Homo sapiens: one gene and its partners. The protein of the gene in region 6 interacts with the protein of the main gene of each other region in a pairwise test. Each region holds a gene or a part of one and is shown on either strand. Other genes may lie near its edges. The genes, in order: TRIM42, TRIM23, CTNNA3, LMO1, PIH1D2, TASOR2 and JPH3.

The links.
Region 1: the proteins of TASOR2 (region 6) and TRIM42 interact in binary tests that used the Homo sapiens proteins (3 or more experiments, as listed by UniProt).
Region 2: the proteins of TASOR2 (region 6) and TRIM23 interact in binary tests that used the Homo sapiens proteins (3 or more experiments, as listed by UniProt).
Region 3: the proteins of TASOR2 (region 6) and CTNNA3 interact in binary tests that used the Homo sapiens proteins (3 or more experiments, as listed by UniProt).
Region 4: the proteins of TASOR2 (region 6) and LMO1 interact in binary tests that used the Homo sapiens proteins (3 or more experiments, as listed by UniProt).
Region 5: the proteins of TASOR2 (region 6) and PIH1D2 interact in binary tests that used the Homo sapiens proteins (3 or more experiments, as listed by UniProt).
Region 7: the proteins of TASOR2 (region 6) and JPH3 interact in binary tests that used the Homo sapiens proteins (3 or more experiments, as listed by UniProt).

Annotation. Positions count from the first base shown.
Region 1 is NC_000003.12:140,676,899-140,680,863, forward strand, and holds the start of TRIM42 (tripartite motif-containing protein 42), read left to right. Parts: upstream 1-1,165; 5' UTR 1,166-1,331; coding exon 1,332-1,672; intron 1,673-3,965.
Region 2 is NC_000005.10:65,596,834-65,600,333, forward strand, and holds part of TRIM23 (E3 ubiquitin-protein ligase TRIM23), read right to left. Parts: intron 348-3,500; coding exon 218-347; intron 1-217.
Region 3 is NC_000010.11:67,217,196-67,220,695, forward strand, and holds part of CTNNA3 (catenin alpha-3), read right to left. Parts: intron 2,676-3,500; coding exon 2,412-2,675; intron 1-2,411. UniProt on the Homo sapiens protein: May be involved in formation of stretch-resistant cell-cell adhesion complexes.
Region 4 is NC_000011.10:8,253,879-8,257,378, forward strand, and holds part of LMO1 (rhombotin-1), read right to left. Parts: intron 1-3,500. UniProt on the Homo sapiens protein: May be involved in gene regulation within neural lineage cells potentially by direct DNA binding or by binding to other transcription factors.
Region 5 is NC_000011.10:112,067,298-112,071,017, forward strand, and holds the end of PIH1D2 (PIH1 domain-containing protein 2), read right to left. Parts: intron 3,405-3,720; coding exon 3,139-3,404; coding exon of another isoform or gene 3,130-3,138; intron 709-3,129; coding exon 574-708; 3' UTR 501-573; downstream 1-500.
Region 6 is NC_000010.11:5,740,338-5,743,837, forward strand, and holds part of TASOR2 (protein TASOR 2), read left to right. Parts: coding exon 1-160; intron 161-1,759; coding exon 1,760-2,189; intron 2,190-3,500.
Region 7 is NC_000016.10:87,640,508-87,644,007, reverse strand, and holds part of JPH3 (junctophilin-3), read right to left. Parts: intron 1-3,500. UniProt on the Homo sapiens protein: Junctophilins contribute to the formation of junctional membrane complexes (JMCs) which link the plasma membrane with the endoplasmic or sarcoplasmic reticulum in excitable cells.

The DNA of each region.
Region 1 (3,965 bases), on a different chromosome or scaffold from region 6:
GAGAGATTGATAAAACTGAGTTTTGGCAAACGTGAGGAAAAGGAGTTTCACTTTTTTGAATGTTGTATGTTCCTTGCTGGTATTAACTGGCACATTTATTTGAGTAAGAAATTTAGCAGTTTGCCTTAAAAAAAGATAAAGGACATACCCTAAGAGCCGGGATTTTCACTTGTAGAAATCTAATATCAATGTGTGGCTGGCATAGTTGGCACTCAGTGATTTTCTCTATTATAAAGGTGATAACCATAGGGGGAGATACTAAATTATGCAGTAAATTCCTGCAGCTAAACTCAGCTCTCACTTCTGCTTCTTTTTCTAAAAACAAGACAGTATTCATACTATAATGTACTATGACCATGAAATTTCTGTTCTTTTAATCTTTGCAAGCTGCTTAAATGGGAAGGTGAAATTCTTCCCTAAAATATAGGGTCTTTTTTCTAGGAATACTGAGCATATACTAGCAGAACAGTTAAAGATTTAATGTAGAGTTCCAGCCTCTTTTTGGAGTGGGGGTAGGATGGGGAAAAGACAGAAAGCTTGAACCTCACCCAAACACCATGCAGCTACAAAAAACCCAAGAAATATTCAGAGTGACTTAAGTATAAAGCTTCATGAAAATGAGCAGCGACTATGCATTGATTGATAAAATCAATTACTACTGAAAGAAGTTCCTAAGTGAACCTATATATTTTTTTCTTTAACTCTTTCTCTGAATGGTGATATCTCTTTAAATATGGCATTGCTATTATTTGTAAACACTGTCCTTTGTTCAAATAGAATTCTATCAATTCCTCTAACATGTGGAAAACCATGTGAATCTACTTTTCTAATTAACCATACCCAAGCCTTTCAGTCTACGAAGACATAATCTGAAGTCCACTTGTCCAAATTGCAGGCAGAACACCAAACAAGGAGAAATAGCTTCAGAAATCTACTCCATTATCCAAAAGGTGACAAATGACAACTAAACTTCCAGGATGCTCATTGCATCACCACTCCTCTACAGCTGGTTCCATGGAAGCATGGAGTTTCCACCAACATACCAGCTACCACCCACAAGGCCGCATCCTGCTATCTACCTAGCATGGTAGAGAGACAGGGATTGTGACATAAGCAAATACCCTCAGACTGATATATGTAAATGCCAGCCTATGAGCTTCCTGGTAGGGACACCAGCTGTGAAGTCCTCATAACAGCCAACTTCTTGCAACTTTCAAGCTGACGGCCTCAGGAATGGGAGGAAGGACTCCTCCACTGGAGAACTGATAGCAGTATTCTGGTAGAGGAGGCATCAAGAGTCCTGGGAGGCCGGTGGTAATCATGTAGGCACCATGGAAACTGCTATGTGCGTTTGCTGTCCATGTTGTACATGGCAGAGATGTTGTCCTCAGTTATGCTCCTGTCTGTGCTGCAAGTTCATCTTCACCTCAGAGCGGAACTGCACCTGCTTCCCCTGCCCTTACAAAGATGAGCGGAACTGCCAGTTCTGCCACTGCACCTGTTCTGAGAGCCCCAACTGCCATTGGTGTTGCTGCTCTTGGGCCAATGATCCCAACTGTAAGTGCTGCTGCACAGCCAGCAGCAATCTCAACTGCTACTACTATGAGAGCCGCTGCTGCCGCAATACCATCATCACTTTCCACAAGGGCCGCCTCAGGAGCATCCATACCTCGTAAGTGCCAGGCACCAGATGTGGGGCCGCATTGGGTCATGAAAACTAGGGACCACTTGCCAGCTGTGAAGTCTACAGGGCAGGCCAGTGAGCCTCTGAGTTCATTTCTTTATCTAAAAGGAGGAGCCAAGAATTTTGTAGCAATTAATTGTATCCTAAATGGTCACTATGTATGTAGACCATGAGCTCCAAATCTAAGCGCCATTAACTATGTAAATGAGCACTTCACTCTTCTGAACCCCAACTCTCTCATCTGTACAAAACAGTAATAGCTAATACTTAGTGCTTAAGGAACTTGCCAGGCACTTCATGCATGACCCCAGCTAACCCCTCACCCTAAGTCCACTGTTTCCATGAGGAAACTGATCCTTTGAGAAGTTAAGTAGCCCCAGGATCACACAGCTGGAAAGATACAGAGTCAGGATTGGAACCTAAAATTTGGGATCTTAACTTTAAAATGCTGTATTGCAAAACGGAGACAATACCCCCCCCATGATATTGTAGATATAAGGATTAATGTATGTGCTTTGTAATCTGTATGTGATATAAAAATATAAATTGCTCTTTCTCTTCCTATGAACTCTTAATACCTGTAACTTTTAATGGAAAAGAAAGAACTTCTATGGGGCACTTTTGACCCTGCGGACCATATAAATACCCCATACATCCATGAACTCCTACTACCTTCTTTTTCCCATCCAGAAGTCATAGTACTTAGGGTCTCAATTATTCATTTGGAGTGCTAACCCTTCATATCAGGTCCTACATTATCCTCACCTGCTCTACCAAACCAGTCTTTTTATGTCACACATGAGGGGAGTCTGAAGTAGTAAGAGCACACTTCTTAGAAGCGGAAAGATGACAGCACCATAAGATGACAGGATTAGAAGAGGCAGAAAAATGGAAGGCCAGTTTGAAGGCTTTCAAGCCTGGAAAAGCAATTCTGTGAGCAAAGGTTTGGTGAATTCAGGGGAAAGATATTATCCATCTTGCAATTAAACATTTAGTAGATGCTTAACAAACATAGCTCTCCACCCATGACCCTCTCATAGTGTTTGCATAAATAGGAAATCCAGGGATTCTCGATGCAAGTCTAGAAATCCTAAAACATGGAAAATTGTGTCCACACTCCTCTCTCAACTACCTGTTGTTCAGTTGTGCAACAGCAACTGAACCTCTGAGCCCATTTCAACAGGAAAGGGATAAAATTGGTGCTTTAGGAAAATGCCTTAGGCTCAGTAGCTCCCCAACGTTACTGTGCATTGAAGTCACCTGAGGATCTTTTAAAATTACTGATGCCTGATCCCCACCCCCCCAAACATTGATTTTATTGGTCTGGGGTACCATCTGAGCATCTGAATTAATTAGAATCAACCCCCCCACCCCGCTTCAGGTGATTCTAATGTGCAGAATGGCCTGCAGGAGGCTAGGAGGGAAGCCAGGAGATTTGATAGGTGGTACAGTAAGAATCCAGGTGCAAGAACAGGCCTGATTTTGGGAGACAGAGGGGGCTGTGCAGAGGAGCAGAGACAGGATATCTCAGCAAGAAGATAAAAGCGCTGGGCTTGATGACTGTTTTGAAATGGAACCATGGCCACTGAATGCCCCGTCCAAGCCTGAGGCTTTTGGAGGATGGGCAGGGATGCTACCACAAGTGTTAGGAGGTCGGCTCTGGGTGCTTTTCTTCAATCTGGCCTCTCTCCTGGCTTCTGACCCTCTGCCTCCCCTGCTTCTCATCACCACCTTCTGCTCAGCACCTTACTTGTCCTGCCTCACTCTGGTCTCATTCATCCCTCTCCATCTTAATCTTTTTGTCACTTCCTTTTTCACCCCTAACACAGCTCCCTAGGCCATTAATACCTGTCTCTTAGCCCTGAGACCTCTTTCTCATCCTCCAACACCTCCCTCCCCCACTTCTTCTTTCTTTTTTGTGAAAATGCTAGTTCATGAGCTTCCTAGTAGAGATACCTCCTGTGAAGGCCTCATAACAGCCTCTCTTTATATTATACCTTGATTCTCCAGGCCTTACTTTTTTAAGCAAACTAAAGTCCATCCAGGCACTACATGGACAATTAACCTGTACCACCAGGTGATCCCTTCAGGACCCATGCAGGAATCTGGGAAAGCAGAGAGGAAATAGAGGTGAGAACATCGAGGCCAGCATGCCTAGAGCTCCCAGATCCCTAAGGGACAAATTTTCCAGGTGCCTTAATATACACAGGGAGCATTCTCTGTCACCACAGGGCCACTCCATTCCAATATACTTGGGAAGCACCTGTGACTGTCAGGACTC
Region 2 (3,500 bases), on a different chromosome or scaffold from region 6:
TTCCAACTGTCCCACCAATACTCTGTTTCTTCTTTTTATCCCCATCCACATTTCAATCCCATAGTCATACAATCTTGCATTTTTTCTCTGAGATGCTGATATCTTAGAGCCAGAAAAGAGCCCACCACCATGACAGATCAGTATCAAATAAGACCCCAAGAACTTGGCTGTAAGCTAGGGTTTGTCTATTAAGGTAAAAACCAATATTCATACTTACCAATTGTTGGAATGGGCTGCATGAATTCATCCTGTTTTAACTTAAACAAGATAGTAGTTTTTCCAGCACCATCCAATCCTAACGTAACGACCCGAATTTCCATTTTTGGTCCAATGTGAACTCGATTATCCTACAATTTAAATATTTTTAAATATGTTTGACATGCAGTTAGAAAGTAATAGCATTTAGCACCTTTATTATTTCTACATCTCCTATTCATTCCTCAACCATTGCAATCTGAATTGTATTCCTCAAAATACTGAGTCTGATCTCAAGAAGATGAAATCCTTCCCCATGGCTAAATCTTGCCTTAGTAAAACTGACCACTTTGTCTTTGTATAACAGAATATACATACCCACTTAATTTTCTCAGATTTTCTAACTCAAATGAATCCTCTAAATCTTAAACATGTTTTTATGCTATACTAAAAAAATCACAATAAGGGTAAATCAATTAAAATGAAAAAGTGCTGCTCAATTCCCAGAAATTTCTACTATGAATCTGATGTATATCCCTCCAGACACTTTCCATGCACATACTGGCCAACATACACAAACAAAACAAATTTTTTTTTAAAAAAGTATTACCCACACATTGAAACTAATGTGTTTCACTCAACAGTATATTATGGAATCCTGTCAATACATATTGACCAACCTTTTTCTTTTAATGGCTTCTTTACATTTCATAAACCACAATTTAACTAAACCCCCAACTGATAGATTTTAGGTAATTTCTGATTTTATGATATTACAAATAATGCTATAATGAACATTTTTATATATTACTAGCTGCATGATTTCTCTGCTTCACTTCTTTCATCTCATAAAAGGAGGATTAAAATAGTACAAAATTTACATAGGATTCTTGAAAGGATTAATTTTTAAGAATACATATAAAAGTCCTTACAACAGTTCCCAAAATATATGTGTTATTTTTGCTTACTCCTTTGAGCACTCTTTGCTTGGATTTTATGATACAAACTTTTCCTGGTTTGGTTTTATCCCATTTTTGGATGTTCCTTCTAATTTTTCTTTAATCCAGCTCTTAAATGTTGGTATTCTTGAGGGTCTATATGAGGCCTCCTTCTCATTCTACATATTTTCATTCTCTTCATGAGCTTTAATTACCATGTATATTATGGCTCCAAATCTATACTTAAGTCCAGTTATACACCTCAGAAATAAAACAATATATGGAACAGAACTACTTCTGTGAGAACTCTAGAGAACAGTTAAGAAACTACAGCACCCAGGCCATAAAACCAAGAAGGCATTCCAGTGAAAGGGGTAATAAAATTTGGGGCATTCTGTGCACTCATCCCTGCCCTTCCCCATATCCAACATAGTGAGGATGAGGTGCAACCAGGAGGAAACTACAAAATACTAGCAAACTGAATTCAACAACACATTAGGCCGGGCGTGGTGGCTCATGCCTGTAATCCCAGCACTTCGGGAGGCCGAGGTTGGGGGTGGATCACCTGAGGTTAGGAGTTCGAGACCAGCCTGACCAACATAGAGAAACCCCGTCTCTACTAAAAATACAAAATTACCCAGGCATGGTGGCGCACGCCTGTAATCTCAGCTACAAGGAGGCTGAGGCAGAAGAATCGCTTGAACCCGGAAGGTGGAGAATGCAGTGAGCCGAGATCGCGCCATTGCACTCCAGCCTGGGCAACAAGAGCGAAACTCCGCCTCAAAAAAAAAAAAAACACATATTAAAGGGATTGTACGCCATGACCAAATGGGCTTTATAACTGGAAGGCAAGAATTATTCATCATCAATCAGCATAATACACAGAATGAGAGAAAAAAAGCACGTAATCATCTCAATAGTTGCAGAAAAAGCATTTAACAAAATTCAATACCCTTTCATAATAAAAACATTCAACAAACTAGGAGTAGCAGGAAACTGCCTCAGTTAACATACACCATATAAGAAATGCCCACAGCTAACATCATACTCAAAAAACTGAAAGCTTTTTCTCTAAGATAAAGAACAAGAAGATGCCCACAGAGCAATTAGGCAAGAAGAATAATAAAAGACATCCAAATTGTAAAGGAAGATGTAAAATTATATCTCTTCACAGATGACATGATCTTGTATGTAGAAAACCCTGAAGAGTCCACACAAAAAGACCTATTAGAATAAAGTCAACAAAGTTTCAGGATATAAAATCAACATGAAAATCAGTTGCATTTCTATACATTAATGATAAAAATCCCAAAAGGAAATTAAGGAAACAATTCTACTTAAAATAGCATCAAAATTATACTTTCAGGGATCATTTTTATAGTTTATGACTAAAGAAGTTTCTCTGAACATGTACAGAAAAAAAAGTTTAAGATACTTAGGAATAAACTCAACCAAGATGGTGAAAGACTTAAGATACTATGTTGGTGCAAAAGCAACTGCGGCTTTTGCCAGTACTTTTAATGGCAAAAACCACTATTACTTTTGCACCAACCTAATATGTAGGCGTACACCTAACCAAGATGGTGAAAGACTTGTACACTAAAAACTACAAATATTGCTAAAATAAATTAAGACATAAATAGACATTCCATGTCCATGGATTGAAAGACATAAAATATTAAGATATGAATAACAGCCCAGGTAATTTATATAGATTCAATGCAATCCCTATCAAAATCCCAATCATGTTTTTTGTGGAGATAGAAAAAATTAAGCTAAAATTTATAAGGAAGCTCAAGTGACCCTGAATAGCCAAAACAATTTTGAAAAAGAAAAAAGTTGGAGGACTCACACTTCCTTACTTCAAAATATATTACAAAGCTAATGTATTGTTCTGTTTTTGCACTGCTATAAAGAAATACCTGAGACTGGGTAATTTATAAAGAAAAGTTTAATTGGCTCACAGTTCCACAGGCAGTACAGGAAGCATGATGCTGGCATCAGCTTGGCTTCAGGGAAAGCCTCAGGAAACTTACAATCATGGTGGAAAGCAAAGAGGGAGTGAGGCATTTCACATGGCAGGAGCAGGAGCAAGAGAGAGGGTGGGGGAGGTGCCACACACTTTTAAACGACCAGATCTCATGAGAACTCACCTATTATGGCAAAGACAGTACCAAGGGGGATGATACTAAACCATTCATGAGAAACTGCCCCCATGATCCAGTCACCTCCAACCAGGCCCCATTTCAACATTGGGGATTACAACTGGAAATGAGATTTGGGCAGGAACATAGATCCAAGCCATATCAGCTACAATAATGAAAACTATGTGGTACTGGCATAAAGATGAGACATACAAACCAACAG
Region 3 (3,500 bases), about 61 Mb from region 6:
AGCAAAATAGAGCAAAGGTTATTTTGGATCCTTTACCAATACAGCTTCCTGTAAATAATGAAAAGTGCAACCATTTAATTTACCAAATCATTAAAAAAGGTTAAATGCTCAATAAATTCTGCTTTATCTAGTTCAGTCAGCCACAGCAGCTATTTGTAACTTGGATATAAAAAATATAGAAAACTTAGGCATTTTTTACTAGTTTGTGCATCTGTACCTTTGACTAGAACTAAATTTCAAAGGTTGTTCAGACAGTTTAGAATCCTCATTAGGATCTCAGAGAAATATCTTTTGGACCCCTTCCCGCCTCATGAAGAACAACTGAGTCTGCCTTTCTTAAGAGAACACTGTTGCCCTGCCTATGCCCACTCCCACTGAAGTTACACACATAACACGCACACTTTCTCCTCCTCTCCAACCACTGCCATTTTGTGCCTGTGGCAGTCACTTTCAACTAAAAAGAGAAAAGAGAAGAGGTCTCAGAAGGAGGAACAATTTGGAAATGTCTTCTTCTTTAATCCTAAAATACAGAATGCATTGTCTGAGATAAACTGGAGCTCTTATGGGAGCATTCTCTGACACAATTGTGTTTTAGTACTGTGAAAAATGTGCTATACAGGTTGAGCGTTGCTAATCTAAAAATCTGAAATCCAAAATGCTCCAAAATCTAAAACTTTCTGAATGCCAATGTGATGGCACTAGGGAAAAATTCAGCATCTAACTTCATGTGACAGGTCGCAGTTAAAATGCAGTCAAAACATCATTTCATGCACAAAATTTTTAAAATGTTGTATAAAATTACCTTCAGGCTATGTGTATAGGGTATATATGAAATATAAATGAATTTCATGTTTACACATCAATCCCATTCCCAAGATAATTCATTAGGTATATGCAAATATTCCAAAATCCAAAAAATTCCAAAATCCAAACCACTTCTGGTCCCAAGCATTTCAGATAAGGGATGCTCAACCCGTATGATCCTATCTATCTACTCTAACAAATTTCAATGTATCACACTCGGCACTCCCCAGATACAGACTACAGATGGTCCCTGACTTGATTTAACAATGGTTCAACTTATAATTTTTTCCAGCTTTATCATGGTGCAAAAGTAATACATATTCAGTGTGTATATAGAGTGTTTCAGGCCCCTAAAGGTCATACCCTTCCCAGGGTAGAGTAACCTGCATCCAGTGACTGAAAGAGACATACAGGCCTGGCCATTTCTGCCTGACAAGGTACACTCTGGAGGGCAATGCTCTCACCAGAGCTCCCTGCTGATTGGCCTAGGCTTTGCGGGTCTAGCTGTCAGGTAGACTTCTTCCTCTATCCAGTCCCGCTCCTTCCCTCTTTCCTTCCCAAATGTAACACCTTGTTTTCCAAACTCCATTCTGTGTGTGATTCTGGAGGACCCAGCCTACAACACTAGCCATGACTCCTTCCTTTCATTCATGTCCCACATCCATTCTATCAAAATTCAGTTGACTCTATTTACAAAATTTAGCACTGATGTCCACCAACACCACTCTAGTCTAAACTAAAACATGAGGTGGTTCATGTAAAGTGTATAAATGGAACCTGGGTTACTACAATAGCCTCCAGCCTGGTTTTTCAGTTCCTCTCATTGTTCTCCTTCAGTCTATGTTCCTTATGCAACTATCATAGTCCTTTTAAGACACGAGTCGCAGCATGTCACACCTTTGCTTAAAACCTTTCAGTGTATTCCCATTTAACTTGGAGTAAAAGCCAAAGTCCTTAAAGGCATACACACTCCTAAATGGTTGGTTCTCCAACCTTAGCTCCTGCTACTCATCACTTTGCTGTCTTCACCTAGACACCCTGGTTTTTATGTTGTCACTTAAACACAGGGCACATACCTTCAAGCCTTTGCTCTAGATCTTCATCTGCCCGATTCCTGAACTCTTTCAAGGCTTTGGCATTATCTCACCTTCTCAGTGTAACATCTATACAATTTTGTTCTCTACAGTGTTTATTGGTTTTATTTTTTGCCTATAATCACCTGCTAAAATGTAAAAATTTGTCAAGGGAAGTGATCAGATATGTCCCAAGCACATAGAACAGTAATGCCAATAAGTATTTGTGGAGTGAATAAATCTTATGCTTCATAAGTAGATCTACATAAAACAAAGTCATCATTTCGATCTAATTAACAATCCCACTTCAAATTCATTGGATTCCTTGGCAGAGATGTACAGGAGTCAGAAGTTTACTAACAGAGTACTTTCCTGTTAATCAATTCTTTGGAAGACTCAAGAAGGTGATAGAGACTAATCTGGATTTTTTATTTTCTCATGCTCTAAACGCCAACATGTGGATCTTCTTCTGTTTTATTATTATTATTACTGTATTAGGACATCAGATCACACTTTATCTTTCTCCCGACTTACCTCCAGCTCATCAAGGGCACTTCCCAGGGTTGCTGCCTGAGGTTCTGGTGGGGTTGTCATATTCTGGATCCCTTGTGAAGCATTTGAAATTACATTGAGAGCATTCTGAATTTCTTCACAAACTGTGTCCTTGCTTGCTTTGAGGGAAGCAACATCAGAATGCTCCAAACAAGCTGAACAAATTGAATGCAAGAGGGGAGAGTTCTCCTTCAGTGAAGCTCGGGCTCCTGCAATTTCATCTCTCTGATTTGGAGATTTTAAGTCCTGAGAAGGTAAATAAAAAGAGTGGTATCTTACAATGGGTTATGGGAGAAAGACTTAAATTAAAAAGCTTCTTTTTTTGTAAGTATAAATGAAAAGATAATAGACATGAAGAAGTCAGCTATAAGTTATAATCAAGGGCATCTATTATTTCTACATTCTTTCAGTTTCTGTTAAAAATTCTGCAGTATAAACAATGACACAGTTAATAAGTAAAGGTCCCCGTAGAGCAGATGTGTAAAGATCCATTACTATTCAGTCAAGTCCTTGTCAGTCAAATCCTTATAAGTAGCTAAAATACTCTGGCATTCACATTATTAAGTGCATTACATGGGAGCTTGAATTACAAGGATGCTGATTACCTCATTCCATAGATGTTGATAATTGCATTTAACCTCTCCGTTAAAATTAGACCAATTGAGTTAAGAACACTAATGAAACCTCCCACCATTCAGCTATTTTTCTTTTTCAGAAATACTAATAAATTAATCCTATATCATTCTTTCTTTGATATTTATTCAACAATTAGTTACTGAGCACTTAGCATATTCTAGCCCTTGTGCTGGACTCCAGTGTACAGATATGAAAAAATCCTACAAGGACCTTGTTCTTCTTTCTTTTGGGGGGAAAGGGCCTACAGACAAACAATGAACTAGATGAACAAATATACGAGATGATTTCAGGTGACAATAAATGCTATGAAGAAAACACAAAAGTGAAGTGTCATAGAGATTGACTTGAAAGGAAAAGCTGCTTTAGGCTGAATGGTCCGAGAAGGTATTTCTTCAGAGATGACAATTTGCAGTAAATGTAAATGAATAGCATTAC
Region 4 (3,500 bases), on a different chromosome or scaffold from region 6:
CTGCGTTGGTTGAGTCATAAGTTATCAGCACCCAGTGAGGGCCGACAGAATGCCTCCCCTAAATTATTAAGCAGAATGCGTCAGACTGTAATATTTTGCTAAACCAAAGTACAGACACAGACAAAGATGTCATTTCAATATTTGAAACCAGCAAGTTTAATTTAAAATAAGAGCAAACCAATAAGCTCAGAACATAGCGGCGTATGAGAGGAAAATTATACTGTGAGAGGAAAAAAAAGTGGAAGGACTTAAGAAATTTATAAAAGTAATCTCCAAGTGGAAATTAGAAATCAAGGCCTAGAAACAGAATAACACAAAAGAAATATTACTGTCCACTTTCTAAATCAATATAACACTGCTCCACGCCGGAATTACCATGGTAACTCAAGTAAAAAGAATCAAGCAATTCTTATTATTTCAAAATAAAATCACAGCCTGAAGCCTGGGTTTTATTACAACCACTGATAGATCGCTGGCTTGTATTTATCTGAAATATTGCTTTTCAATCAGCTGGTTTATGAATGTACACAGGCCTCTCACCAGCCCACTTACCACCCCATTTTGAGGCTAGGGGCCAACCAATGAATTGATTCTCACCTGGCTGCATCTGCATATATGCTCAGGTCTAAGTCAGCTCAGGGAACACAGAACATCACATCCTTTCAAGCCGTCTAGTGGCTTTGCAGGACAGAGAGGAAAACCTGAAAGAGGCAACGGGGACTGACCTGATTATGGTCCCTCCCCACCGAGGCTGGCCCTGGGAGGAATGGAGCTGGGCTCCCATGGCAGCCCCACTCAAACTGCCCACAGCAACCTTCCTCCCTCCCCAAGTCATCTTCTCACAGGTTCGTCACCCTTCCTTGAACTCTGAGTGTCTTTCTCTCCATCCCCACGTCTGACAGCTGGAAAAGGGAGCAGACAGAGCAGAGAGAGTGAGCGCACTGACTCTGCAGTCAGCCTGCTTGGGTTCACAGCCCAGCCCTGGCATTCTTGAGCTGTGGGAGCTGGAACCAATTACTCAATCTCTTTGTACAATAATTTTCTCATCTGTAAAATGAGGGTAATAGTAGCTTCTTCCTAAGGTTCTTATGGGTATTAAATGAGATTATACATGGAAGATGCTTGGTGGACTGATTACAAAAATGGCCCCAATTCTCTACCCTTCCCCACAGCCACACCATTTGTTATATGACTTTTCACCTCCTACCTTCAAGAGCAGAATCTGCTTCTCCACCCTTTGAACTTGGGCTGGCCTTGTGATTTATTTTGGCCGATAGAATGCAGCAGAAGCGACAAGATCCCAGTGCCAAACCTTGGCCTCAAGAAGCCTTGTGTAGGCTGGGTGTGGTGGTGCGCAGTGGCACAAGCTTGTAATCCCAGCACTTTGGGAGGCTGAGGCAGGTGGATCGCTTGACCCCAGGAGTTCAAGACCAGTCTGGGCAACGTAATGAAATCTCATCTCTACAAAAAATACGAAAATTAGCTAGGCATGGTGATATGGACCTATAGTCTCAGCTTGGGAGACTGAAGAGGGAGGATCACTTGAGCCCAAGAGGTCAAGGCTGCAGGAAGCTGTGATTGTGCCACTGCACTCCAGCCTGGGCAACAGAGTGAGATGTCTCAAAAAAGAGAAGGCTTTTGTGCTTCCACACCTTCCGGACCGGTCTCTGCCATAAGAACAAGTCGGACAAGCCTTCTGGCTAATGAGGGCCATGCAGTCTTGTCACGCCCAGCATCCAACTGATCAGCCATCCTCCATCCTCCAGATGTGAGTGAGCCCAGCTGAGACCAGAAAAACTGCTCAGCCAAGCCCTGCTTAAATCACTGACCCACAGATTTTTGAGTTAAATAAATGCTTATTGTGTTAAGGCTCTACATTTTAGGGTAACTGATTACACAGCAATAACTAATTGATACATACAGATAGCACAATGCCGCACTTTTTTTTTTTTTTTTTTTTTTTTTGAGACGGAGTCTCGCTCTGTCGCCCAGGCTGGAGTGCAGTGGCGGGATCTCGGCTCACTGCAAGCTCCACCTCCTGGGTTCACGCCATTCTCCTGCCTCAGCCTCCTGAGTAGCTGGGACTACAGGCGCCCGCCACCACGCCCGGCTAATTTTTTGTATTTTTGGTAGAGACGGGGTTTCACCGTGTTAGCCAGGATGGTCTCAATCTCCTGACCTCGTGATCCTCCCGCCTCGGCCTCCCAAAGTGCTGGGATTATAGGCGTGAGCCACCGCGCCCGGCCAATGCTGCACTTTTAAGTACGGGTTCAGTATAATGATAGCTATAGTGTTTTATGACTCCTAAAGACTGAGAGGCCAAAGCCAAAAGATGATACTGTAACTGTACAGAGAGCAATGTCAATTCATACAAGCATGAAACTTTCTGGTTTATCAAGTGTGTGCTTGGACATAAAGTGCCAGTTAGGTGTTTCACCCTTTGTAGGGATGAGAAAACTGAGGCCCAGTGCGCTGAAGTCACACAGCAGTCAGCTGGGACAAAACCCAGGTTTTCTGAATCATGCTAGCGGACTACACCTGTAGACAGGAGGCCACTCAAGAAAGCCCAGTTGACCTCCAGGGGAAGGGACAGGAGGGAGGAGCTAGTGACCTGAGCCCATGGGCCTTCACACTGGGCAGCTGCCTCTGCGACCTGGACCAATCTGCTCACTCCTCTCACACCACCTGCTTTTAATTTGCCCCCAGTTGTATCAGCTACTGTGAACTCCTGCCTTGGACAGAACACAAAACGAACACACTCCCACCAGTAGCGAACAAGCTTGTTGCTAGGTTTGGTGGATGTGTCTCTGAGCATGGCCTGGAATGGCCTGGGAGAAGCCTCAGCCAACTAAAGGAGAAAGGGCATGCCAGGCAAGGAGGACATAGGAACAAGGGAATAGAGGCAAATGCTGAGTCTTCATGGAACCCAAAACCAGAGCAGACATACTAAACCTGCATAGTTTAGTGTGATGGTCAAAGCAGCAGTAGGCCTCAGGCAGGATGCCAGGGTAGCAGAGGTTGGGTCAGACTGGTTGTAATGAGCACCACAAGAAAGATAGCAGGTGAGATGAGAATGGTGGTAGCAGAGGAGAAAAGGGTAGGTCCAGAGTCCCAGATGAATGCAATCCAGTGGTGTGCTGATGCATGCTTAACGACCAAGTCTTTGGGAAAATGCCCTGATTTGTAGTGTTTGCCAACATCCATGGTACAAATACTCCCATTGTGGCTGACTTCAAGCTACCAATGCAGTGTCTCTGAACTCAGAGTTGGGAACAGATGTACAGAATCTCTTGCAAGCCAGGACAAGTTGACTCCACTGGTGTAGTCCAATCCCAAATATGGGCCTGCTGGGAAAACTCACTCTAGCAGCACCACAAAGAGCTAAGCCTGGAAATGGGAGGACACCTTGCATGTCTCAGTGTCCTCCAACTCCAGACAGGACAGGCAAGCAAGATGGGACACATGCCATAGGAACCTCTGGGGCTTCTCCACTTCCAAAG
Region 5 (3,720 bases), on a different chromosome or scaffold from region 6:
TTTAAAACAAGTGTGTCATAGCAATAGTTTTTAATTCTGGTTGATGTTTATTTGAGAAGAAGTGAGTTAAAAAATATAAGACATGGCCAGGCATGGTGTCTCATGCCTGTAATCCCAGCACTTTGGGAGGCCGAGGCAGGTGGATCACCTGAGGTCAGGAGTCCAAGACCAGCCTAGTCAACATGGTGAAACCCCGTCTCTACTAAAAATACAAAAAAATAGCTGGGCGTGGTGGTGCATGCCTGTAATCCCAGCTACTCGGGAGGCTGAGGCAGAATCGCTTGAGCCCATGAGGCGGAGGTTGCAGTGAGCTGAGATCGTGCCACTGCACTCCAGCCTGGGCAACAAGAGCGAAACTCCGTCTCAAAAAAAAAAAAAAAAAAAAAAAATATATATATATATATATATATATATATTTGACATAACAGGTGAAGAGAAAATCTCAGTCAAAATGAACTTAGAAAATAATGGAATTGGTGTTTAAGATAAACTACTACCTCTTTAGCCAAAATGAAGGTCCTTTAATTCACATGACTTTAGCACTGAAAACCCAAAACATATGATGCTCTTCTTTCACACCAAAGGCATTGTGATGATTAGCGTGGATTTTTCTTTGATAAATTTTGCTGTGGTCATTTCAGTATCAATAAGTTTTGGAAGATTCAGATGTAATCTGTACTTCTCAGATACTTCAATCAATAAATCATCCTAAGAATAATAAACCAAGAGATTTATTTCCTGCTTAAAATTTGGGATACTAACTTATTGTTCCCAGTTATTCACTCCTTTGCCATAAAAAGATCCCATTTGTTGCCATGTGACTTGGAATGAGCAAAAAATTACTGTTGTAAATCCCTTAGATTTTAAGGTGGTTACTGCTGCTCACTACATCACACGTTAACTGATACAGTACCACAGTAGAGTGTTGCCATCCTAAATTATGTGGCTGACCAGCAAACAGCAAGGAAACTTATTGGAGCCTGGAAAGGTAGTGATCCATGTTTCATAATGATGAAGCCTTTAGTGAAACTATCACAGTAATTTGGATGATAAATACTCTGTGCCTAGTTGATTTGTGGCTTTAGGTGAAGAAGTGGGAAAATAGATGGTAATGTGTTGGTTCTGTTCACTACATTTAACAGGATATTACAAGAAAGATGAGCTTAGAATGGACCATTTTGCAAGTCAAATTAAAAGGGAATTGGCTGAGTGCGGTGGCTCACACCTGTAATCCCAGCACTTTGGGAGGCTGAGGGCAGGTGGATCACTTGAGGCCAGGAGTTCGAGACCAACATGGGCAACATGGCAAAACCCCGTCTCTACTAAAAATACAAAAATTAGCCAGGCTTGGTGGCACATGCCTGTAATCCCAGCTACTCAGGAGGCTGAGGCAGGAGAATCGCTTTAACCTGGGAGGCAGAGGTTGCAGTAAGCTGAGATGGTGCCACTGCACTCCAGCCTGGGCAATAGAGTGAGACTGTCTCAAAATAAATAAATAAATAAAAAGGACTTTATAGAGCCCCAAGATTCCAAGACTCAATGACTGAAAAGTGGAACTAATTTTTATTTTCAGCAAGTAAGGGATAAAATTGAGAAATTACTTTTATCAACCAAGCTGATTAAGGCAATATAGAGGCAAAGATTAAATCTTTATGCTCTTTGTTAAAACCTCTGAATTTTTTTTGTTTTTTTTTTTTTTTGTTTTTTTTTTTTTGAGGGGAGACAGAGTCTCGCTCTGTTGCCCAGGCTGGAGTGCAGTGGCTCGATCTTGGCTCACTGCAACTTCCGCCTCCCGGGTTCAAGCAGTTCTCCTGCCTCAGCCTCCTGAATAGCTGGGACTACAGGTGCCCACCACCACGCCCGGCTGATGTTTTTTTTGTATTTTAGTAGAGATAGGGTTTCACCATGTTGCCCAGGCTGGTCTCGAACCCCTGAGCTCAGGCAATCCACCCCCCTTCGGCCTCCCAAAATCCTAGGATTACAGGCATGAGTCACCGTACCCAGCCAAAACCTCTGACTGTACTAAGGTGGACTTCAGTAAATCCTTACATTTGGCTAAAATGACAGCAATTAAGTCTAAAGAGACAGGTAAGTCTTGAAATATGGGCAATGTCTAAAAAGGAATTATGGGTATCACTGACTGGAATCAAAATGCTACCAGCCTGGACTAAAAGAAACTGCCTTCAAAATTTAAAACAATCCTTTGAGCCCCAAGATTCCATGAGCAGGAACCAGGCTGAAGAGGCTACTTAGCATATAAGAATGGCACATTCTCCGATACTCTTCAGATGTGGCCAAGGTGGATAGTGGGAAAGGGAAAAAAAAAGAAAACATCTTCCTGAAGACTGAAGCTAAAGGTCGTGGAAAAAAATGGAACTGGGGAGCTAGGTAATTACAGAACTTTCTCAAGGAACCTAAGTAAGAACATCCTCTACCTCCAGAAAAGGAGCCCTCACAATGTCTGCCTACTAGGATTTCAGAATTGCTGTGCACCAGTAACTGCAGTGTGCCTCTTATTTTTCCCATTTCTGAATTGAGATGGTTAATTACGGTTATCTTCTCCCCATTCCACATTGCATGACAGATGGGACTGAGGGAGTACATAACTTTTTTTACATGTCTTAGTCCATGGTTCAAGAGGAAGAGAAAGCAAAATTCTGTCCTTTGGAGTCTGATACTGGGATTGGAGGTGTTTTCCTTCCAGAAAGAAGCAAATATTTGCAACCAAGAGTGTAGACTGGTAGACTGTAGGACTGACTCTAACTATTTGCTCTTCTGTAAGAGGATAGTACGTTTACCCTGCCATATGACTTCCTGTGACTGTGAGAATACACTTCTCAGTCCTACTGATGTAGAACTGGCCTTGTGACTTACTTTGGCCAGTGGAGCGTGAGTAGAAGTGATATCATGAAGTGTCATGTCTGAGTAGAAGTATTACGATCCACTGCATGGTTTGATCATTCTATTTTCCCTTTGCTGAGATGTGAATGGCACATCTCAGAAGGGAATTGCTCCTTCACCGGGTAACCTGAGCAAATCATTGTAAGCCCCTGAAATTATGTAGTTTGTTACTGTGGCATAATATATGTTAGTGAATGCTGGCCAATACAAATTTACAGTGTTATCTATTCAACTTACCTCAGAAACACTAAGGTCACAGAGAGAGACAGAATTAATACCAGGTAATTCAACTTTCAACTCAATTTTCAGAGGTTTCTCACTGTGATCATGCACAATTTTTAGTTCATAGGCTGGCATCTTCATCTCCACCTGGATTTCAGTACTGGAAATCTCTTCTATCAGACACACTGCTTTGCCTGAAACTTGGTCTTTTGGCAGTAACAGTTGAGGAAAGTGATCTGGATTGCTCATAGTACTGCTTCGTATCTGTCCAAGAGTTAGTTCTTTATGAAAAAAAGGGTGGAGGGGAGATAAAAAATAAATCTACAACATAAAATACTATGAGCTATAATATATGTGGTGTTAGTAGAGATGGTAGATAAAGCTGCAGTTAAATTAGTTTGGGAATCAAGCCAAAAGAATCTTAAACCAAAGAATTTGATTGAAAATTTTTCAGGATTTAAAAATCAAGGATATGATATTTCTAATATTTAATATTTGCATTTTTCTATCTTAAGTTTTTCACCTTTTAAAATAGAGATTTCTAGTTTGCAAAATGTATACAGGATCCAAAAACATCTTAAAGCAGTTTAATTTTCC
Region 6 (3,500 bases):
CGTCTGCCCGTGTGAAAAAATCTTCTTGCTCTCGTATAGTGCTTAGCTGTGATGACTCCGTTAAGATCACTTTCAAATGTGAAACAGAATATGCATTCAGTTTAGACAGCAAATATACCAACAACCCACTGGAGAAAACTGTAGTAAGAGCATTACATGGGTGAGTATGAGTGAAACTTAGTGAAAATGGATGAAACTTTTCTGTTGAGATGAATGTAGTGAGATGGGGAAACTTATGCCAAACTCTGGAGAAGGAGAAAGAAGTGTTGTGTTTAAAACCAGTAATTTGATAATAACATCAAGCAAACATGTTTCCTGGCAATTAAGAGTAACAGGCTGGTTTTCCCCCTGTGCTCATGTGGAGAAGTTTTTAAAGATAATTTTAGCCTAATGAATAGCTTTCCATTTTGCAATGCTCCCTCGTAAGCCCTTGTGGCTTTTGAATTTCAATTTTTAGATGAGATCTTAATGTAAAATAGTGTGAGATTTAGAAATAATGCTTTACAGACTGAATTCCAGAAGAAACATTTTAAAAATCACTGTAGCTTGGTAAATTGGTCAGATTGATAGGAGTAAGCAGTTTCACATAAGATTGTTCTATAGATCTCCCTTAAGAAGGAATCAAGTCAGTAATAACAGAGTGGTGAACAGCACAGGCTTTGGAGTGTAGACTAACCTAGATTTGAACCCGGGTTCTTTCCCTTTCTTACCTCCTGTGATCCTGGGCAAGTTTCTTGCTTCTGGACAGTGCTTCTTAATTGTGTGTGCTGCTCATCTAGAGATTTCACTGAACTGCAGATTTTGATGCATTCTCCTTGGGAGAGGCCTGACATTCTGCATTTCTAACAAATTTTCAGGTGATATCAATGGTGGATGACAGTCTGTGGCCAACATTTAATTATGTAGCTGTGTCCTGAGGTTACATATATTGAGATGCACAGTGACTGGCCAGTAGTAGTAATAAATGGTAACCATCACTGTTAGCAAGCATTCATTAGCTATATGAATTGACATTCAGCTCCCTATTAATGAACTGTTTCACATCTGACTATATGGACTCTACAGCTGTCAGGCTTTCTTCTATACACCTGTTCATATATACTCATAAGGGTCATTTCCTTAGAACTTCCTGTTTAGCTATTGCCCAACTCTGCAGCCCCCCTGACTTATGGTACTCCAGCGATCTGCCATCCTTTTGCCTGCCAGGTGGCCAGAAATGTTTTCTATTTCCCCTTACTGTTTCAGGATATTTTGCAGAACTGTAGTCTGAAAATAGTATAGTTCTGTTGAATTGCCCAGAGAGATATTTTATCTTCAGACTTTCTCAATTATTAGAAGAGAGACACAAAAATGGAAAATAAATGAATCAGCCAGACTTAGCAAAAGCATGGTGATGAGGATTTGGGTATTGGCGAAACCATTTCTATAATAAGTATTCTGTGTCCAGAGTGAATTTGTATGGTGTAAAAGACACGTGCTACCCATGTTCAGATCATGGTTCTGCCATACAGGTTTTGTGATTTGAAAGAAGGCAATTACATGTTCTGATTCTCAGTTCCCGTCTCTGTAAAATGAGTGGGTTAGATGGATAATTATTTGTTAAGTCAACTACATATTTACTCATTCATGTTTCATATCTGTAAATTTTAAAAATAAAAACAAAAACTAAGGAATATTGGAGGCACTTGCTTATGATAAGGTAATCAACTAAAATAACCATTTTCAATGATTTTCATGTGTTCTTTCTGTAAACTCTTAGGCCCTGGAATACTGATTTGCCTGATAATGTGGAAGAAGTGAAGCTTTTACTTCATATGTGGGTAGCTCTGTTTTACAGCAATCAGAACAAAATCATACGATCTTCCCGAAAGGTTGTAGAACACAGCAACCCAGCAAAATATGTGTCTATAAATAGCACGTTAGAATCTTGTGAGCTCCGTGAAATTGAGGAGTCCCTTGGTTTGGAAAAATGTTCTGCAGACTCTCTGTTGGAGACTAACGAAATTTCCAGGGCTCATGCTGCTGAAGTATCCTTCCGTGATCCTAACTGCTTGCTTCCTTTCATTAAAACACCACTTACCCAAGGCTTGGAACTCTGTGTACAAAATGAACAGAAAAAAACTTTTGCAAGAGAGTGTGATCCAGACACCCAAGAAGACCAGAATTTCATCTGTTCTTACAATAATGAGGTATGTAAAGCTGAATACCGTTAAATGTTGGCATTATTTTTGAAGAAAAAAATGTTTATATGTAAAATCACATTCAAAACAAGGCATTTTTAAATTTTAGGACAGTGAATTCTCAAGGTATGTAAAGAACTATTACACCAAAAACCTAGTTTTCATGAAGTGTCCTTGAATTGTCTGCAGGTAGAGCTTACCTGCCATCCCGATTGAAAAAAACCAGAGTAGAAAAATGTCACAGGGTCCACATGATCTGGGAGCCCAGCATAATTTGGGGCAAATTGCTTCTTTGCCTAATTTTTAAAAGAGGTGACTTAATACCTATCAAGTCTTATGTAGAATATTGTTTAAGGATCAAATATAGCAATAATAAATCTTAGATATACTTTGATAAACCTTAAAGTAAACTAAAATTAATTGTATTAAAATTATTTTTGAAGACAGATGCTGGAATAGTAAAATGCCAGACCTGTGAAAGAAGACCCATTGCAAATAACTATTTGTAAATATGGAAAATATACTTTGTTTTGTTCCTTGTTCTCAACTGACATTCAACCAGGCCAGATAATCCAAATTTTACCTGGAGCAAATCTAAAAGTTGTTAACAAAATTCTAAGCAAATGAATTGACAAAATTACCTACCTTTTAAAGTTTTCCGCCCAAATTTATTCTAGAATAATATTGCTTGGGTTTGGGCAGCATCTCTGATTCCTGTCTTAAGAAAGAGTAGACAGTGTTCCTATACCCGGGGTCACCGGGGACTTGGAGGTCCTTGGGTGAGCCTCATAGAACCCGTGAATATCTTCAAGTGATTGTCATCATCATGAGAATTAAAGATTTCTGGGTCACTGTGTGCCAGAAAGTAAGAGTTCTAAGCCCTTCACTCATATTAACTCAGTTCATTCTCAAATAAGTTAAAGACTATTAATCTCCCCATTACATAGATGACGAGACTAAAGCATAGAGAAGTAAAGAAATTGCCTAAAGTCACATAGAAAATTGTCAAGCCAAGATTCCAGTCTAGAAAACCTAAATGTTAACTATGTATGTGCTTTTTTTTTCCCCTAAAGATGGGGTTCAGCAGTTCCATCCTATTCTCAAAGAATTACATAAAATCCAGTTAAGAATCACCACCTTAGAATAAGAAAATATAGTCTAGTCAGGGAGATTTAAATTAATACATATATACATGCTAGTTTCTTATAAAATACCATTTGTCGTGGTAATATGTAATTAACTATCATCAGTACTAATTTTAGCAATGATTTTGGCAAGCCTGACTGTTCAAATCAGTGATTCCTAACAATCTCCTTAGTA
Region 7 (3,500 bases), on a different chromosome or scaffold from region 6:
CACCACCATGCTCCACTACTTTGTAAATTATTTGTAGAGATGGCAGTCTCATTATGTTGGCCAGGCTGGTTTCTAACTCATGGGCTCAAGTGATCCTGCCTCAGCCTCCAGAAGTGCTGTGATTACAGTCATGAGCCACACCACTCCTGGTGTGCTATCTTGATGAAACCTGGTGAGGTTTGCGTGGAGGCAGACAGACCATGGTACCTTCCTACAACTTCTATCACCAGTGGCTGTTTTTGAAGACACCTCCATCCTGCTTCTCATGGCTAGATCTTGTTCTCTCTTGGAAATCGGGGAGGGAGAAGGGAGGCATCAGAGTCTGTGGTGCAGAGTGAGGACCACAGAACCCAGAGTGAATACGGAGCCCCTGCCAAGGGCACAAGGAAACGCGTCCTGGGTTAGGAGGCTAATGAGTGGCAGCTACAGGGACACAGGTGTGGGCTACACACTAAGCCCTGAATGGGCTGCTCTGGGAGACAGTGAGCTCCCCATTGCTGGAGGTATCCAGGAAGACCACACAGTGGACACACCATGGAAGAGATTCAAGGGCATAGGGAAGGGACAGTGGCCCATGACCTTCAGACATAAAATCAGCAGACCTGATATCCCCAGAAGAAGGGAGGGTGGGGACTGCAGCAGCTGCCTGTGCACCTGGGTTCTCAGCAGCACTGTTTCCATGGCTGGAAAGGGAAAGGCAACCCACAAGTCCATCACCTGGTAAATGGACAGACGCCATGCGGTCCGTCCATACGATGGAACATCATTCAGCCTTGAAAAGGTAGAACATTCTCACACAGGCTGCAATGTGGATGAACGCTGAAGACATTACACAGAGTGAACTGAGCTGGGCACAAAAGGCCACATATCGGATGATTCCATGTACACGGGGTCCTTAGAGTAGTCACGCTCAGAGATGCAGAAAGCGCGGTGGGTGCAGGGGCTGGGGAGGGTTGTGGGGTCAGTGTTGAATAGGGACAGAGTTTTGCAGTAGGATGATGGGAAAGCCTTGGAGGTAAACAGTGATGACAGCTACCTAACACCGTGAAGGTAATTAATACCACTGAATTGTATACTTAAAAGTAGCTAACGTGGTACATTCTGTATTTCTCTTACCACAATAAAATAAAAAGGAAACCCGGTCAGCAGACCTGGGCCCATGTCTTGCTCTGTGAGCTGTGACTCAGGGAAGTTTCTGGGCCCCGCTGGCCCTCAGTGTCCTCGTCTGTAGAGTGGAACCAGGACTCCTCATGCCAAAGGTCACCGTGAGGACGGCTGGGCCTCAGCACGACGCCCAACGCGGCAAACCTCAAGCCTCATTTGTCATTTGAGCTTCTCCCTGCAGCCGGGCACTAACGGCGTGGATGTGCCACCCTGGAAAGGGCTTTTGCGGGGAGAACAGAGTCCGTCCACCACTCTTCCAACTCACGGTGGCACAGGCTGCAGACCAGAGGCCTGGAGGCCGAGACTTACTGATACGTAGGTTTTATTCGTCCCACCGCTGTTTTCATAAAACATTGGAATTACCTGCTAACAACTCAAAACCAAGAGATTTGACATAAAAATTCAGCTCTCTTCTGTCTCCTGAAAAATGAGGACCTGGCCACCCCGACCTCTCTTTTCAGAGGACAAAATGGACAGGAGCTGGCAGCAGCTGCTCCTGTTCTGCCAGTCACTTTTTAAACGGAGAGGCTGCAGCGGGTGGCAGGTGCCGCCATCTCTCGGAGCGAAGCAGCCCTCCACTCCCCACTGCCCCCCCCCTTTCCCTAGCCAGGCCCCCTCCACTCACACGCCCCACACCAGAGGGTGGGATCCAAACTAAGTGTGGAATTCAAAGTCCTGTAGCCTCAAGTGACCTGTCCGTCCCCAGGGTATCCCCACACCCCGCCACCTTCACCCGCCACCCCCCAAAGGGTCCTGATCCTTCCAGGCTTTTCTGTCCAAGGCTCTGTTCACGCTCTCTCCTCTCTCACACTCCCACCCTCCAATCGAATCCCATGGGCTCCAAGCCAGCCCCACCCCTCCTCCACAGCACCTCCAAGCACCCCAGGGCCCGGGCCCAGAGCCCCCATGCCCGGCACCCGCGGCATCCAGACTCAGGACAGTGGCTGGGGTCTTAGATGTTCCAGAATGTATCTTCCAGCTCAACCACATCACGAGCCCCCAGAGGGACTTGTGTTGCAGGCCCCTCACGCCCCATGTGGCATATGGCCCAGCCAGGGCAGAGAAGGGGCGTGCAAAGATCACCAATCAGGCTGCAGCCCCGGACAGAGCCCCTGAGGCTGCCTCACTCCAAGAGATGGTGGCACCTGCCACACGCTGCAGCCTCTCCGTTGAAAAAGGAATCGGCAACGCAGCCTCTGAGGGCAGCTTCTCCAGGAGCAGAGCCTGAGCTGGGGATCCTGTGAACGTGACTTATTTGGGGCTGGAGAAGGGGGGTACCAGGAAGAAGGACGTGGCAGCAGAGGACGGGGCCGAATGAGGTGGTCTCAGCGAGAGGTCAGCTTCAGCCTCGTCCCACTTTCAGGCAAGGGGATAGGATGTTTGGGATCCCACACTGGTCGGTCATTCTGTACCCCCAAAGCTGCTTGGGGAGGCAGCTAACCTGGAGGCAAGTCCACTGCCATCAACGTCGGAAACAACCTCACTGCCATCAACATCAGAAGCAACCTCACTGCCATCAACATCAAAAGCAACCTCCGACTCCAGTGATGGGGCTCCTGCCCTCCCACCCACTAGGCTGTGGCACCTTCTCCTACAGGATGCCAAGAGCCGGGCAAGCAGGGATGTATGTGGACCGGACCCCAGGGACCCCACAACACCACTGCACACCTTTCCAGAGTGTCAGCCTCAGCCTCTTGCCCAGAGGTCCCAGCACTGGGGGCAGTTGTGATGGGCACGGGGAGGAGGCAGAGGGGGCAGCTGACTCGGAACCACCCGGCACCCCAATGCGAACCACACTGGGGGGAAACCCTGTGGCTTGCTCCACACCCGAACGCCCTTCCAGGCTGGGGTTGTGAGGAGGAAACTGGAACTAGGCTCGGTGGGTCTCAGGGGGTGGCCCTTTACCAAGGCCAGACCCGCCCACACAGTGGCCTTCCCATGGCCAGTCCAAGCTGGACACAGGCTGCCATCACAGGGACCCTCACCCCAAGACTGCACCCTCAGCGACTGCCCCTTCCGTGCCAGGGCTGTGGACAGGGTTGTCACATCAAACACAGGACGCCTGGTAACATCTGAGTTTCAGATGAACAACACATCGTTCTTTAGGGGACACGCTGCATGGGACATACTTATATTTAAAAAGCGTTTGTTGGCTGGGTGGGGTGGCTCATGCTTGTAATCCCAGCACTTTGGGAGGCCGAGGCGAGCAGATCACCTGAAGTCAGGAGTTAGAGACCACGCTGGCCAACATAGTGAAATCCTGTCTCTACTAAAAATACAAAAAAACTAGCTAGGCATGGTGATGGGTGCCTGTAATCCCAGGTACTCAAGAGGCT